Linked DNA regions of Homo sapiens: region 2 is linked to region 1. A link means that fine-mapping ties the variant in region 1 to the expression of a gene that starts in the linked region. Tissue or cell type: whole blood. Region 1 holds a variant in brackets; the other region holds the start of a gene. All regions are shown on one strand. Distances are from middle to middle.

What was found. PIP is the estimated chance that this variant, and not a neighbour inherited with it, causes the effect.
Region 2: PIP4K2A starts here. The variant in region 1 is fine-mapped to the expression of PIP4K2A in whole blood (TOPMed, PIP above 0.99).

Annotation. Positions count from the first base shown.
Region 1 is chr10:22,540,199-22,548,304 of GRCh38, reverse strand. PIP4K2A (phosphatidylinositol-5-phosphate 4-kinase type 2 alpha) reads left to right here. Exons shown (of 10, transcript NM_005028.5): 8 at 6,258-6,501. Among named protein-coding and RNA genes, the nearest start is that of LINC03027, 110 kb to the right of the region's middle. RefSeq lists an enhancer at 4,192-4,823. The variant G/A (reference allele first, on the strand shown) is at 4,063.
Region 2 is chr10:22,710,915-22,719,020 of GRCh38, reverse strand. It overlaps PIP4K2A (phosphatidylinositol-5-phosphate 4-kinase type 2 alpha), which reads left to right and starts at 4,443. Exons shown (of 10, transcript NM_005028.5): 1 at 4,443-4,838. The coding sequence starts at 4,695. RefSeq lists enhancers at 3,581-4,188, 4,189-4,797 and silencers at 3,958-4,627, 4,928-5,007, 5,178-5,297, 5,598-5,707.

The sequences.
Region 1 (8,106 bases):
AATCCCATACATGGCTCAAGCACTTAGCTGTTTCGTTGAAATGGAGGCAGGGTGTAAAACATCCTTTCATTTAAAAATATTCTCAATAGCTGATAACAGTGTCTTTAGTTTTGAAATTTATGCAGAACCATCATTAAATTTTTAAGCAGGTAATTATGGTGAAGTAGCTTGACATCTGATCTTGATAATGAGGCTAGAATTTAATCGAGTTTTCTGTTTTCATCAGTTCCATGCTTTCTAATTTAGCTGACTGACCCATTGGAGTTTCATTGCAGTTTTTTGTTGTTGTTGCTGTTTTTCCTTAATGCCTCGAGTAGGAGATCTGAGTGTATTACAGCTCAAGAAATCTAGATTTTAGGAAAACTAATTTTCATCTGAGGTTCTAGTTGCTGTTTTTCTGTAACAGCAGCCCTGTTCTATTCCTATGCCATGCTGGGTATTTTCATCCACATAGCTTTGCACGTAACACAGGTGAGTCTTTTTCTGCACACAAACACACACACAGATCGGTGTATGAGGAGTGACAGGCACTTTTGCCTTCTGCCCTGTGTTTTGTCAATTCTGATCACGGCCCTGAAGAATCAACCCTGGTCTCTCCTCTCATTGACTCACATGATGCAAAACTGTTCTCCCTCTGTGGCATCCAGGAGTACCCCCTCACAGGGCATTTCAGTTGTCTGAGGTTTATAGCCCCCCATCCATGGAGATGGGTGAGAGGGGATAGGGCGGTGGGAGTAGTGGGATGGGTGGCAGCATTTATGGAGCACATCGAGCCCAAGTCCTTCCCATGCAGTGTCACTTGTCATTCTCAAAACAGCCCCTTGACAGTGGTCCTGCCCCTACCCTAGTTTGATGAATGGGGAAGCCGAGCCCAGAGACCCTATGTAATTTGCTCAAAGGCACAAAGCTTCTAAATTCAGACTGGGGCGTCAGGCCCTCAGAGGGCACAGTCCTTAACTACTCTGACATAAACACAAGTTAAAAATACCTGTGAGAGCACAGTGGAGGCTTTGTTTTCTGATAATTGCTTCGAAGGAGGATTATAATTTTTAACAAGTGGTAAGATATAACCGTTAAACAGGGCTGACTGGCATTTTAATTCTACTTCACAGATATGTTGGGAGATGGTGATGTGGTAGAACACGGTGTGTTAGTAGAGTTAAATAAATCAGTTGAGAACCATTGTGAAGGATAGTCTTAGACTCGTAAAGATCTCAAGGAAGATTGTAGCTCAAAGATTTGTCACAGCAAGGACTCAATTAGTAAGGAATTAGATGAGAAGGGATATTCTGAGGGAAAAAGAGGCAGATGTGAGGTCCAGCAGGTGGTTTCTGAGAAGCTGGAAAGGAAGAAAAGCAGGGGACCTAAATAAAGACTGAAAAATCTTCACACTTTGAAATCTTATGTTCTTAAAACTTAAAGAACAAATATATACTGTTTTCCTGCAGTGAGCCGGAAGCAGACCCCGCAGTGAAGCCCACGCCCCCTTTCTGTCTTCTCTTTCCATCTGCGAGCTTCCAGCCCACGAAAAATCTCAGATGTATTGCCACACTTCATTCACTCTACCTCAGAACAGATTTAAAGTAAAGTTTGAGGCCTGTTGTGGTGGCTCATGCCTGTAATCCCAGCACTTTGGGAGGCTGAGGCAGGAGGATTGATTAAGCCCAGGAGTTTGAGAACAGCCTGGGCAACATAGTGAGACCCCATCTCTACAAAGTTTTAAAAATTAGCCAAACGTGGTGGTGCATGCCTGTGGTCCTAGCTACTAGGGAAGCTGAAGCAGGAGGATCCCTTGAGTCCAAGAGTTTGAGGCTTCAGTGAGCCATGATCACACCACTGCACTCCAGCCTGGGTGACAGAGCCAGACCCTGTCTCAAAAAGAAATTTAACGTTTTGAAGATGAGAGCCCGTGAATTAACAGGCTTTTCCATATGGTTCTTTTTCCCCCGGTCTACAAACTGAAACCTGTTTAAATTGAAATCTTGATATTAAAAAAAGACTTCTACCATAATCAAAACATTGCCAGTTACAAATAACAGCTTCCATTATTTTGTGTGAGGCACCATATTTTTTCTCTCAGTTTCATTATCTTAATTCTTCGACACCCCTGTGAGGTGAGTGGCATTGTCCAATTTTAAAGTCAGAATGACTGAAGATCCAGGAGGCGAACTCGTCAAGCATGGAACTGGCGAGTGAGACCAAATCAGACTCTTTGTTTCTTGAATGGGTCTCCCTGGTCAGCATGACCTGTCCTTTTAACCACTGTGCCATATTTGGTTTTTCCCATTTCTACCTCAGTCTCAGAGACTTGAAATCATGAATAATAATCCCAGCAGTTTGGGAGGCCAAGGCAGGAGGATCACTTGAGGCCAGGTGTTTGAGACCAGCCTGGACAACACAGCAAGATCCTGTCTCCACACAAAATAAAAAATAATTAGCTGGGCATGGTGGTGCACCTCTGTAATCCAGCTCCTCGGGAGGGTGAGGCAGGAGGATTGCTTGAGCCCAGGAGTTCAAGGCTACAGTGATCTGTGATCATACCACTGTACTCCAGCCTGGGCAACAGAGCAAGATCCCATCTCTTAAACAAAAAGAAAACATGTGCAATGCCCATTGTGACTGCAATTTTCTCAGTCTTCTTGGGTGCCTCAGAACAGCTTCTTACCTAGAGATGCATTTTGCATCATGCTGATGGTTTTTGGGTTGTGCTAGGAGTTGACTGCACCTTTATTTCTTCCTCACTGGAAGACGACAGTAAGCGGTCTGACCACAGGCCTGAGGCCCAGGAAAATTACTCTGGGCTGCCCGGTGTGGCGAGGAACCCAGATGGGGTGCCAGGGGAGGCTGGGCCCTGGAGGCTCACCCTGGTGAGTGCGGCTGGCCAGTCCCAGTTGTCCCCTTCCCTCTCTGCCCTTTGGCAAGTTAATCACAGACAGCCCTGACTTCTGTAACTAAAACATACTTGAAGGTCAACCAGTAGACCTTCCTGTTAAGGTAATCGTCTTAAATGGTCACCTTGCGCTTCCTTTGCAGAGCTGTTGCCTCATGCAGTCTCAGACAAAAGTTTTCTGTTGTTGCTTTGTTGTTTGTATTTGGCTTTGGTAGTTACTTCCTGCTGGAAGCAGGTTGGGGAGAATTAGGGAGAGTTGGGACGGATAGGGAAGAAGTAACAAGCATCCCATTCACTTGTCCAACAAGTGCCGAATACTTTCCCGAGCCCTCTGCCTGCCGGGATTCGGGAATGCAGTGAAAGCCAAAACCTTAGAGCCCCGTTTGGGGCTGCCTTGCTTGGGAAAGAGAGAAGTCGCTCAAATACTCCAACAAAATGAATGTGCAGCGAGGCCCCGTGTCACTGGGGAGGAGTGTGCGGTGCCCTAAACACCCAGACTCTGGGGCTGTGCTGCCCTGTGCAGTGCCCCGCAGCTGAGACCTGAAGGCACAGGAGGAAGTACCTGCCCCCAGAGAAGCCCAGGAAGTGGGCAGAGCAGAGCTCAAGTGGGCCCCAGAAGTGGATGGGGCCAAGCTCTCCAGGCCTCCTGGGCCATGTGAGTTTTGTTTGTGCCCTGTGAGAAACGCGGCACTATGGAAATGTGTTAAGCAGAACAGGATGGGATCAGGTTCACATTTTGAAAACTTCTGCCCTTTGCAGAGGACTGGAGGGGTGGTTGAGGCACCACTCAGCCTTTACCACTTCACAGGGACCTTCCAAGCACCCAGAGGGAGCAGGTGTGGGCAGAAGGGGGGCCTTTTCCCTGTCACCTCTCAAGCCGAGCAGGGCCTGGCCTGGCTCCAGAGAGGCTTCCAGGTGTAGAGAGAGAGGCCAGGGAAGCCGTAGATCTAGGGAGCAGAGCCAGGCACCGTGCTAGGCTTGGGAGGGGCAGCAGAGGTGGCCAAGGAGACCCTGACCCAGTCCTCCAGCAGCCCAGAGGCCTTGGAACAACAGGGCAGGGAGAAGTGGGCCCACCATAAGCACCCCCACCCCCACCATACCCCTCAAGCATTGGAGAAGACAACTGGGTACTTACAATGCAGTATTTTTCAAATAGGCTTCTGAAACCCCAG[G/A]CCCACAGGTCATTCTGACGGGAAAGCAGGTTCCATGATCACAGCAGTGCCATGTGTGCTGCTGCTGGCCACCTAACCCTCCGGAGACCCACAGCGCAGAGTCATGTGTGGAGGGCCTCCGATGCCAGCTGATTTTAACTCGTTACCTTCCTCCTAGGGTTGCGAAGAAAAGGAGAGGGGAAAGCTGCTTTAAGGCAGCCTCCAGAGGTAGCTGATAGAGAGCAGAGAGTACAGGCTCAGAACAGGCCCTGAATTCACCCCTCCTTGGATCTGAATCCTTGCACTCTCGTCCAGCTGCTGAGCCTGGCTGCTGTCTCACACGGAGAGCCTGCCCCCTGCCTTGGATCTTGTCACCTGTCCCTATACCCCGGAGTGCCCAGTTCTCTTCCACATCCACAGGCCCATGTATAGCGGAGCTGGTACCCGAGACCCAGCTCCCTGGCTGGCTTCACCGTGCGGGTGGAGGACTCAAGTGAGCCTTCCACCACTGTAGATTTCTCCCCGCAGCCGCCCCCACAAACATGATCCCAGCCAGGTGATCTCGGCCAGGTGCACCTCACAGCCTGGCAGCTGCCGAGATTCTAGGGGAGGATGCGCAGTCTCTGACTGCTGGAAAGGAATCTGGCAGAGAGAGGTGCAAGTGGAAAGTCAGTTCTCATGTTTACTGTAATGGGGGAGTTTGGGGAAAGACCAGGGGGGATGAGCAGTGGCTTCCCCTCTTCTCTGGGACCCAGAAAGCTGAACGCAGGAGCCCCATGCTGTTTCCACGAGGGGTTTGCCTCTATTTTTAAACAAACAGGTTTCTCCCACTTTGCTTAAATATTTGAGTGTAAGATTTGTGTGATTTCTCTTTTTTGAGCTCAAAACAATTGGGGAAGATATAGCTGGCCCTGGGGGATTCCTGTTGGGAAGGCAGCGAAGTGGGAGCTCTGGCCAGTTTGCTGGGCTGAGCGGGGTGCTGGCTGATGGAGAATTGCAGGCACCAGGAACCAGCTGGAGAGTGGGATAGCCCTGTGCCCAGGGGTCCTCTCCTCGTCTGTAAGGAATCGGGGCTTCTCATTCAGTTTCGAGACAGAACTCCTTCCCAGCAGGCTGAGGAGAAATGACTCTGCGGGGCTTAGCAAATTGATTTCATTTTTAGCCAGAACTTCAAGACCTGTGATTTTATCTGTTTGCCCTTTGCATGAGGACATCTGCTTCCTAAATTCTATCAGCATAGCCCAGAGGCTGCTCAGCCACTCTGCATTCCCCAGCGAGGTGGCACTGAGTCCTTCCAGAGCCAGGACCGTGAACCTTCCTGGACCCTGAGCCCAAGGTCGGAGTGGAACAGGATCCTGTGCAGAGCCAGCCAGCCACGGGGTCAGGGAGCCAGTTGGGTCCAGCCCGCAGATGGGCTGCCACTGTTTGCACTCAGCACAACCATCCACATCTTATGGCAACATTGGAACGTTGTGCTGAAGGTCTCAAATAAGAAAAGGGAAACAAAGAGAAATCGTGATCTGAAAAGTCAAAGAACTGGGCAGACAGGAGTAGCCAAACACACAGAGCTGGGTCTTGCCCCCACATTATGTTCTAGCCACGGCTGGAGGAGGAGAGGGAGGACAGGAATCCTGGATGTGTGGTGCTTCGTGGAAAGCACACGTGGAAAGCACCTTGTTGACCTGGACAGGACTGCATTACTCACCAGATGTGGACACAGTGCCTTTACTTTTACTTATTTACAACAGCGTAACAATCGCCTCCACAGAGCATGCTGAATTCCAGGGTGCTTTCCTGAACTACCACCAGAGACTCCGCTGGAAGCTACTTGGGAGATGCCTGGGTTTCCCCATTAGCCAGTCTTAATCATTGGGAGGAACTTGCTCTCTCTCCCAGTCTCTCTCCGCATCTCTTACTGGTCATGCTCCTTGCTATCTGGTGAAATCCAGCCACCCTGTGATAGATACACACCTCTCCGCATCCAGTGTGGCATTCCAGGGTAAACAGCCTGAGCTCTGAGCCAGCCTGAAGTGTGAGGCTACATTTTAGATAGAGAAACAGCCCAGGAGTGTAAGAGCATCGTGAAGGAGGCACCCGGCGCCTCTGCTGCCCCACCCCACAGCCTTCCCTCTGGGTGTCACCCGAGCTTGTCTCCTTTAAATGTTGGCTTTTATGTTTAAGGTGTGGCTGACTCACCCTGTTGCCTCTGTCCCCAGTTTCTGGCCCAGCTGAAGCTCATGGACTACAGTCTGCTGGTGGGAATTCATGATGTGGAGAGAGCCGAACAGGAGGAAGTGGAGTGTGAGGAGAACGATGGGGAGGAGGAGGGCGAGAGCGATGGCACCCACCCGGTGGGAACCCCCCCAGATAGCCCCGGGAATACACTGAACAGCTCACCACCCCTGGCTCCCGGGGAGTTCGATCCGAACATCGACGTCTATGGAATTAAGTGCCATGAAAGTAAGTTTGATTACTGTGGACCCTTTTTGCATGTGAAGTGGTTTGACTTTGGCCTTGTTATCTACCAGTAAGCACTACCCCAGTTATGAGGGTGCTGCCCGGCAGCACTCATCCTCCAAACTCCAAAGAAATGGATTTGGGGACAAGAGTATGTTAAAGCTAACCGTGATCTCAGTGCTGAAACATAAGGCGATCGGACCTTTGAATTCTGTGATGTTGAGGGAATACAGCAAAACCACGAACTATACTATACATGTACAACACACCTGTACATATGCACATACACACTGGCATACAACGTACGTGCACACACAACACAACATGCATGTACATATGCACACATACATGTTCACAAATAACATCAGAAATGCTTTAAAATATTAATACGTTTTTGCCTAGTTATCTTTTTTATCTAAGTCAAAAGCATCATGAGTCTAAGCTAGGCACATGCATGTGATCCTCTGTGACCCTTAGCTTGTCCTCTTGTCATTACCAACAGCCCTCTCCCTCTCAGGGGTGTGAAGGGTGTGTGAAGATGGGCCCTGTGGGTGGGGTGGGAATCTGATTTGCTGCTGAGTCTGGCTCTGCTGTCCTCCCCCATGGAAGGGCCTATGGCCCTCTTCCCTAGAGTCAGATAAATCTTAATCCACCGTATCCAGGTGATTGGGTGCACCAGTTATTTGAATATTACATCCTACCTTAGCAACTTATCCGTGACAATACCAAAATATTTTTGTGATAGGATAAAAACAGCTTCTTGGTTTTTGAATAATAAAAACTGTGGCTCATCAGTTGTTTTTTAATCTCAAATGGCATATCAGCTGAGGATCTGAGTTCTGTTTTGTTCTGTTTTGCTCACCAAAATGTTTTCTTCAACACAGAAAATTAGATAGTCAAATGTACTTTTCTTACTGTTCATATTTTTGGAAATGGATAGAAAACAGACACGGGCCGGGCGCAGTGGTTCATGCCTGTAATCCCAGCACTTTGGGAGGCCGCGGCAGGCAGATCACCTGAGGTCATGAGTTTGAGACCAGCCTGACCTACATGGAGAAACCCCATCTCTACTAAAAATATGAAATTAGCTGGGCATAGTGATGCATGCCTGTAATCCCGGCTACTCGGCAGGCTGAGGCAGGAGTCACTTGAACTCGGGAGGTGGAGGTTGCTGTGAGCCAAGATCGCACCATTGCACTCCAGCCTGGGCAACAAGAACAAAACTCTGTCTCAAAAAAAGAAAATAGACATTGGAGTGGATGTATGCCTTTATCCAGTTCTGATACTGTATCCAGTGAGAATTATGAACAGTTCTACCATTTGATGTAAAGGATTAGTGTACATAATTAGTTCTGTTTTATAGGGTATTTTTAAATAGCATATTTCTTCACACCAAAGCAATACACAATTATTAAAGAAAATGCAAATTAAAAAAAAAAAAAGACTCCGTTCCACCGTTGGATCTCCACTGTTGATACCCTGGTGTGATGATGTTTTTAGTTGTTAGGGTTGTTTCTTTTTAAATTGCAGGGGGACTGGGTCAGAGAGGCAAGCTGTGTGTTTAGTCAGGATCCGCAGGGGTGGTGTAGAGTTTGTCTCTGGACTCCT
Region 2 (8,106 bases), 170 kb before region 1:
TTCCTTTTCTTTCTTATTTTTAGAGACGGTCTCACTCTGTTGCCCAGGCTGGAGTGCAGTGGCACAATCAGAGCTCACTGTAACCTCAAACTCCTGGGCTCAAGCGATCCTCCTGCCTTGGCCTGCCAAAGCTCTGGGATGACAGGCGTGAGCTAAGGTCATTTCTGTGACTCTAGAACTCTTGCATCACACATACCCTCCACAGAGCACAAAGCTAATGTGAAAGGTTATTGGCAAAATCATTTAATAAGGCAGGAGATGGCTTGAGGTCAGGAGTTCAAGGCTGCAGTGAGCTGTGTTCTTGCCACTGCACTCCAGCCTGGGTGTCAGAGTGAGACCCTGTCTCAAAAAAAATAAATAATAAAATAAATAAATAAATAATTTAATGATGTATTTGTGAATGGTATTGTGTTAGATGGCTTTCAAAACATGTTAAATCACCAGAAATTCTGTCCTTTGAAACCTGCAAGTCTCCTCATAACTACCTAAAAATACCACACTATGCCCCTATCTGTCCCTCACATGGTGCTATTGGCCTCTGCACCCACCCACAGATTGCTGCTTTCCTAAGGCGGAGCCTCTCCTAACAACAGGTATCCATCCCCTCTTCCTCTAGGGTCATTCAGCACTCTGTCATCACTAAATTCAGTTTTTTGGCAGTTGCAGCAAGCCTATTGTCTTGCATTATTAATATAAAATTAAGTATAATATAGCTATTATGAAACAAATAAATGCTATGGAAGCACTGAGGTGGAAGGATGAATTTGAATTAGGAGGATCAGGAAAGCATCAGGGAAGAGAGGATTTTTGAGTCTAATTGTTTTCAAGGGCAGGATCCAATAAAGGAGTTTAGGTTGGGTGGTGGTGAAAGGCAATAATTGATGATGATGGTAAGCCTTCAAGCCTGGCCAATGAAAATTTGTTAAATAAAAGAACTTCCAGCTGGGGTAACCGAGTGATATGAATGCCATTTCCAATATAATACAAGAAATAAAGTAACTTGTGGATGGGGAAAGATGTCAAACTTGGCTTTAGATATCTTTTTTTTTTTTTTTGAGATAGGGTCTTGCTCTGTTGCCCAGGCTGGAGTGCAGTGGTGCAGTCATAGCTCACTGCAGCCTCAGTGATCCTCCTGCCTCAGCCTCCCAAGTAACTGAGACCACAGGATGCATACCACCATGTGCAGCTAATTTAAATTTTTTTTTTTTTTTTTGGTAGAAATGAGATCTCGCTATTATATCCAGGCTACCCTTGAACTCCTGGGCTCAAGTGATTCTCCCATCTTGGCGTCCCAAAAGTGCTGGGATTACAGGCATCAGCCAGCATGCCCAGATGGTTTTAGACACTTTTAAAAGATGCCTGTGGAAAAATGATGTACAAATGTGCAACCAGGCATTTCTCTGGGGTCGGGGAAGAGTTTATGAGTTACTTGCAAGCACTCTACATTTTCTATTGTGTTGTCTGGTTTACAAAGGGTTTTCATTGCCATTATCTACTATTGATTTTGATTCTAACAAACATCCTATAATGTAGGTAGGGGAGGATTATATTACTAGGTTCAAAATAGTTCCTAAAGTGACATTTGTGTCTGATGATAGTTACTGTTAACATAAAGAACCCGAGGCTGGGAGAGGTTAAGTGATTTGCTCAAGTAAGTGGGAGAGCTACAGCTCAGTCCCCGTGATGTCTCACTAAAAATTTAGGTTTTGGGCTTTTTTAAACCACTAAGAGCAGTGATGGTTGATGCTGGAGAAGCAGATATCATTTTGGATGAAAGCAAGCAGGAAATTACGACGAGGGGACTTAAAAAACAGTCAAAGAAAGAATAGGAGCAAATGAAGGTGACCACATGACCTCCCCTCAACCCCTGAGGAGACTCAAGATCCTAAAGGGATAATGGCCTGTCATCCTTCATCTCCCTGACAGGACCAAGCAGTCTGCCAAGGGCACAGAAGGTATCTACTATATTTGAGTGGAGTAATAATGACAACAGACAACTTACAGCGGGTCCTCAAATACTGTCATTTTGTTCAATGTTGTTTTGTTATAATGTTGATGAGAAAAAAATGGATTTCTAGCCGGGACCACTGTTTGTATTTGCAGGTTCTCCTCGTGCCTGCAAGAGTTTTCTTTGGGTACCTTGGTTTCCTCTCACATCTTAAAGACATGCACGTTCAGTTCATAGGCTTGTCTACATGATACCAGTAGTTTTTCTTTTCTTTTTTTTTTTTTGTTTTAAGAGACGGGGTCTCCATCTATTACCCAAGCTAGAGTGTAGTGGCATTATCACAGCTCACTGCAGCCTCCAACTCCTGGGCTCAAGCAATCCGCCTACTGCAGCCTCCAGAATAGCTGAGACTACAGGTGTGTACCACCATGCCTGGTTAATTTTTGTATTTATGGTAGAGATGGGGTTTCACCATATTGCTCAGGCTGGTCTCCAACTCCTGGGCTCAAGCAGTCCACCTGCCTCATGCCTCCCAAAGTGCTGGGACTACAGGCATGAATCACTGCCCCCTTCCTAAATGGTCCCAGTTTAAGTGAGTGTAGGGGTGTGTGTGTGTGTGTGTGGTGTGTGTGTGTGTGTGTGTGTGTGTGTGTGTGTCTTGCAACAGAATGGCATCCTATCCAGGGATGGTTCCCACCTTTTGCCCAAGCTGAGCAGCTGGGATAAGGCTCCCACTATCTGTGACCTTGAACTGGAATAAATGAGTTGGAAAAATGAATAAATCCGTGAAACAAATGACTGTAAAATAAAAATATGTAAGTGTACATTAATCATAAAAATGCACGACAATAAATGAGATAGGAGTGCACTCAGCTACCATATTTGTGATTGTTTTTGAATTTCATGGTAGCAGCAGGTCCTACAGGCAACTTTTGCTTTGCAAACACTTATTCCTTGACTTAACCCAGCACCACAGCAACCATCGCTCACTTAATCACTAGAAATTTGGCAAACCATTATCTTGTTTTTATCAATCTTTAAAAAATGTAGGTAGGCCAGGTGCAGTGGCTGGTGCCTGTATTCCCAGCACTTTAGGAGGCCAAGGTGGGCAGATTCCTTAAGCCCAGGAGTTCGAGACCAACCTGGGCAGCATGGTGAAACCCCATCTCTACCAAAAATACAAGAAGTTTATCCAGGCTTGGTGGTGCGCGCCTGTAGTCTCAACTACTGGGGAGTCTGAAGTGGGAGAATCACCTGAGTCTGGGGAAGTAGAGCCTGCAGTGAGCTGTGATTGCACCACTGCACCCCCAGCCTGGTTGACACAGCGAGACCCTATCTCAAGGGAAAAAATAAAAATAAAAAAGAGGTATAGCTCACATTTATTTTAATGTTTAATATTAGAAGTGTTTTGAATTTTTACTTTGAAGTTCGGTGATGTTTTTGTAACCGGAAATAATGCTGTAGGAACTTAACTCTTTTTTTATATGTCAGCCTATGGCAAATTTGGTTTTGTTATATGTTGTTTTGCTTAAGGTGACAGTTTCCAAGAACCTACTCCGTGAGGACTGGTGAGCTGGGTCAGAGTAAATAGCACAGGATGACGACTGCAAGGACGATATGGGGGCAGCAGGGTTTTAGACATACTTGGAATGGCAGCTTCCTGAGGTAGGCCAAGTATTCTCAGCATAATAAGGGCTACATTTAGGTGTATCTGGAGGAAGACGGTGAACAGATTTCCACGGACGGTGAGTGCACTGGAAAACAGGCAGGGATGGCAAGTACCATAGTGATGGATTGGAAGAAGGTGCACTTTGGGGCATGATTCTACTGGTTAAGCCAAGGGCTCTCGATGAGGTCCGAGGTTCCTGCCCCGGGCACGGAGTGGGTTGGCAGTGACAGCCCAGCCTATTACGTGGGAGTCTCCCTCTTGAATGGCTCCAGGAGGCCCATATCGAGGGTCTGAAAGGCCAGACGGTTATCCGCACAAAAGTATTAAGTTCATTTCAGGGACTGACCCGGCAATGTGCCCGGGTCCTTCCCCTCGGTGCTGGGAAGCCCTGGTCTCCCTGCAGCATTTCACACCTGGCTGGGTCTCCTGACTCGTGGCGTGGGTGAGTGCATGAGCCTCCCTCCTTCGCCTGATCGACGCCTGGGGGCTCCTCTCCCCAACCTCCTCACTCTGCCCACTCTGTCCTCTCCCTCCTTGGGGAGCGGCAGGGGACGCCTAGCCGGGGTCCCCAGGCTCCCGCTCGCAACCCACGGCCTCCTCCGCGGGCAGGGAGCGAACGCCCGGAGGTCGCCCGCGCACAGGGGGCGGCCCGGCTGCAGCGGAGCCGGGGCGGGAAGGCGCAGCCTAACGGTCCAGCTGCCGCGCCCCGCGCCCCGCACCCAGTGCCCCGCCCGCGGCGCCGCAGCCGCCTCCCGCCTGCCCGCCCGCCCCCTGCGTCATGACGCCGGCGCCCAACGCGGAAGCCGCTCGCCGCGCGCCGGGTCCAGCCGCGGGCTGAGCGCGGATCCGCGGCGGGCGCAGGATACGGGCCGGGGCGCGAGCCGAGCGCAGTCTGCCGGGCCGAGCGGGCGGAGCGAGCCGAGTGGGGCTGAGCGCGCCGGCGGCGGCGGGCGGAGCGGAGCGCGGCGCGCCGGGGCCGCCGCCGGGGGGATGCGGCTGCCTCCCCGGGCCGGGGTGTAGAGAGGGCGGGTCCCCGGCCTCGGGAGCACGGCGGTGGAGGGGACATAGGAGGCGGCCATGGCGACCCCCGGCAACCTAGGGTCCTCTGTCCTGGCGAGCAAGACCAAGACCAAGAAGAAGCACTTCGTAGCGCAGAAAGTGAAGCTGTTTCGGGCCAGCGACCCGCTGCTCAGCGTCCTCATGTGGGGGGTAAACCACTCGGTAAGGGCTCAGCTGCGGCGCGCGGTCCCCTTCCTCCTCCTCCTCTTCCTCCTCGTTCCCCTCCTCCTCCGGCTGCAGCTGCTGCGGGGCGGGGAGCCGGAGTCAGCCCTGGACCTCCGGCTGCTCGCCCGCCTCGAAGCCCCCAGCCCCGCGGCGCGTGCCCCCAGCCCTCTGGGCCGCCCAGGCACCACCACTTGCGTCCCCTTTAGATCTATGGCCCGGTGCGGGTCGGGGGTCCCGTGTGCATGTGAGTCTCACGGTGGGTGCCAGTGCCGCCCCCGGTCCGCCCGCCCGCCCGCAGGTCGGTCCCCGCAGCCTGGGAGGTAGGAAGTTTGTGCGGGGCACGGCGCCTCGGCTGTCAGCCCCGGCGGGAGCTGCTGGGGGCCGGGTCCGGGCGACCGCTACCCGGTGTGGGGGCCGCGCGGCGCCCGCGTCTTCCGCTTGCGGGCAGGTGTACCTGTCCCGGGCTGGGCGCGTGCGAGCCTCCCACTGGGGCACTGGGGCGAGGATACCGGAGCGCGAGCAGATTTGGGGCAGCAGCTTTAGTGCTTAGGTCCTTTCTTTTTCCTTTAAAGGCAATATTACTGGGCACAAGTCGGCTTTTTGGCAAAGCAGCAGCCGATGTAAATATGGCTCTGGCGTCGGGCGGCATCCCTGCGCTTCTCCCGCATCGCCCTGCCGCTGTGCGGGCTGGAGAGCCCTTGGCGGGGAGTCTTCCTCCCTTCGTCGCCTCCCCCCACTTTGGGGAGTCAGGCAGAAGTCACCGACTGCGGAAGGGCGGCCGGGGCGGGGACAGCAGGCGGGGGTCCCGGCGGGCGCGGGCGGAGGGGGTCCCGAGTTGGCCGCACCCGCTGTGGGGGGTGTGGGAAAGGCTGGAGAACGCGTGGAAAGGTTAGCGTCACGCACAGTCGGGGATTGGAGGATGCGCCGCTGCGGGCTATGCGGACTGCGGTTCGAGGGTCTGAAATAGCCTCCTGCTGATCTGACAGCGAGAAACTCCTGCAGTTTTAATCCACTTCGATAGGATCAGGAAACATGATCGGAGCTGTTGGCTCAGCCAGGAAAGTTTAAACGAGCTGTGAATTTTGACCATGACCTTAGCCACTGCAGTCACTTAGCATCTGGGGAAAAGTGTAAGTTCGCTTTCCCTGCTTTTGATTTCGATGGATGTCTGTATGTCCTTTTCAGCGTAATGGAAATGACAGAAAACCATGCTGGTTTTTCGGAAAACACACACACAGACACACACACACACACACACACACACACCCTCAATGTAGTGAAGTTGTTTAAAATGCCTAAAAGCATCGTTTTTGTATTTTTCTTCCCCAAGCTGAGCAGGGGGAAGGGCAAAACAGTATCAGGATCGATCGTGTTTGCATGGAGTGAGTGTTTTTGGAAAAGTTGAGAAATGATTATTTTTATCCAGCTTAATGACTGACTCACTGAAGTTCATTTTAACTTCCTGGCAACTTCTTTAGCTATTTGGGAATGTAAGTTGTTACAAGAGCATGCATTACTGCACCAAAAACTCCTCTCTCAAGTTTTATTACGGAAAATGAAATGCAATTTTTCCTAAGTAATAAGTTTACAATGTAGAGTTATGTATAATTTTGTTAAGCTCTTTTATTATTTATGTTAGTAGTTTTTGGGTCCCTTATTACTAGAATAGAAACTTACAATTTAAAAAAAGGATGAATACTGTAGTGCTTACTCATATTTATGGTGCTTTTATCTCCTTTGGAGTTCTGGTGTTTTGGTCAGGAGAGTGTTTCTGTCTCGGGGTTTAATTTAGTAAGGTAGTGTCAACAATATGCTGCCGAAAAAGAGTGTGCTTTCTGGGAACTCGTCTGAATTCCAGTTTGCCTTAAAAAATCTTGTAATTGTGTATGTTTTACTGTAACCACTTACGTTGCTACCTTATATTTATGAATTGCTACATTTGTTTTAGAGTTTCTTGCTAATTGGAAATATTTTGAAACTACTTAAGTGTTTCATAGTGTATGACTTGTAAATAGTACATTTGGTGTTATTTTCTTTTGCTCTCAAGAGAAGTTGGCAGTTCTAAGTATCCACAACCAGAGGAGTGAAGTTTCCATTTCATATAAATGTAAGCATGTTACTCATTCAACAGATATATATTGGGCACATACAGTGCCAGCTACTGTGGGAAGAATTGCTAAAACACCTCTAATATTTTTATCCAACTGTCTTTATTTTGAGGGCTCTGAGTTGACATAAGAAAGGTCTGTTTCACAGCCTTTTTTTTCAAAATGTCTATTTTCTTTACTATATTATTTTTGAAAAAAGAATGGAGGTGTAATATAAACATGAAATCTAAAACCCTTAGATGCCATGTATTTCTGGTTTGATTTCATTTTAGGTGACAATGTCTGATATTAGATAAATGTTTTATATGACCTTCTGTGCACCAAAGTTTATAGTATAATGTGAGAATAAATATGTCAGCAGTCTTAAGAACAAACAAGCATGGTGTTGTATACGAGCATCTTCCACATACTGTGGTAAAACGCTCATTGAATCTGCGCTTTAAGTTTTTCTTAAATTCTAACTGTTGACCTTGGGCATGTTAAGGTCAGGTTTTGGCATCAGTGTTTGCATCTGTGAACTGAGGTTGTTTGGATGATTTCCAAGTCTAACTCAAGATTCTGTTTTTTCAGTCTACTAGGTGCACAGTGTTATACTAGGATTTGTAGAATACTATATAAAAGTTGTCTTACTATTATAACCTTCCAAATGCAGCAACATTCAGGGAATTTTCAAGACCTTGACTACAGGGGAAGGAAATCTATGGTGATTTTAAGAGACTGTGAACTAAGGGTTTGTTATATTGAATGTAGCTGAACTGCATTGCAGTCTATTAAGCCAAAGTCGATTTGATTGAAACATAACAACTTGCAATTAAGGTGAAAATGTTCAAGTCCATTGAGGTGGTAATGAAAATCTTGATTTGGGCAATGGTCATAGTCGGGAGTAAGCCTGCCATTGTGTGGTTAATTTGATATGTTACTGCTTTGTAACTTAAAATACCCATCAGTGAATGGATCAGTGCCAATTTTTAAGTATTTTAAGCAGAGAATATAACTGAATACATAAAGGAAAAGACTTAAGGCAGTTTTGTCTTGTTACATTTAGAATTAAACTAAAAATGATCAAACAGTAAGCGTCTTAAGATGATATTTTAATAGTGTGGGGAGGATGTTGAATGATATGAGCCAAGACTTGTTTTAAATAGATACTCTAAAAG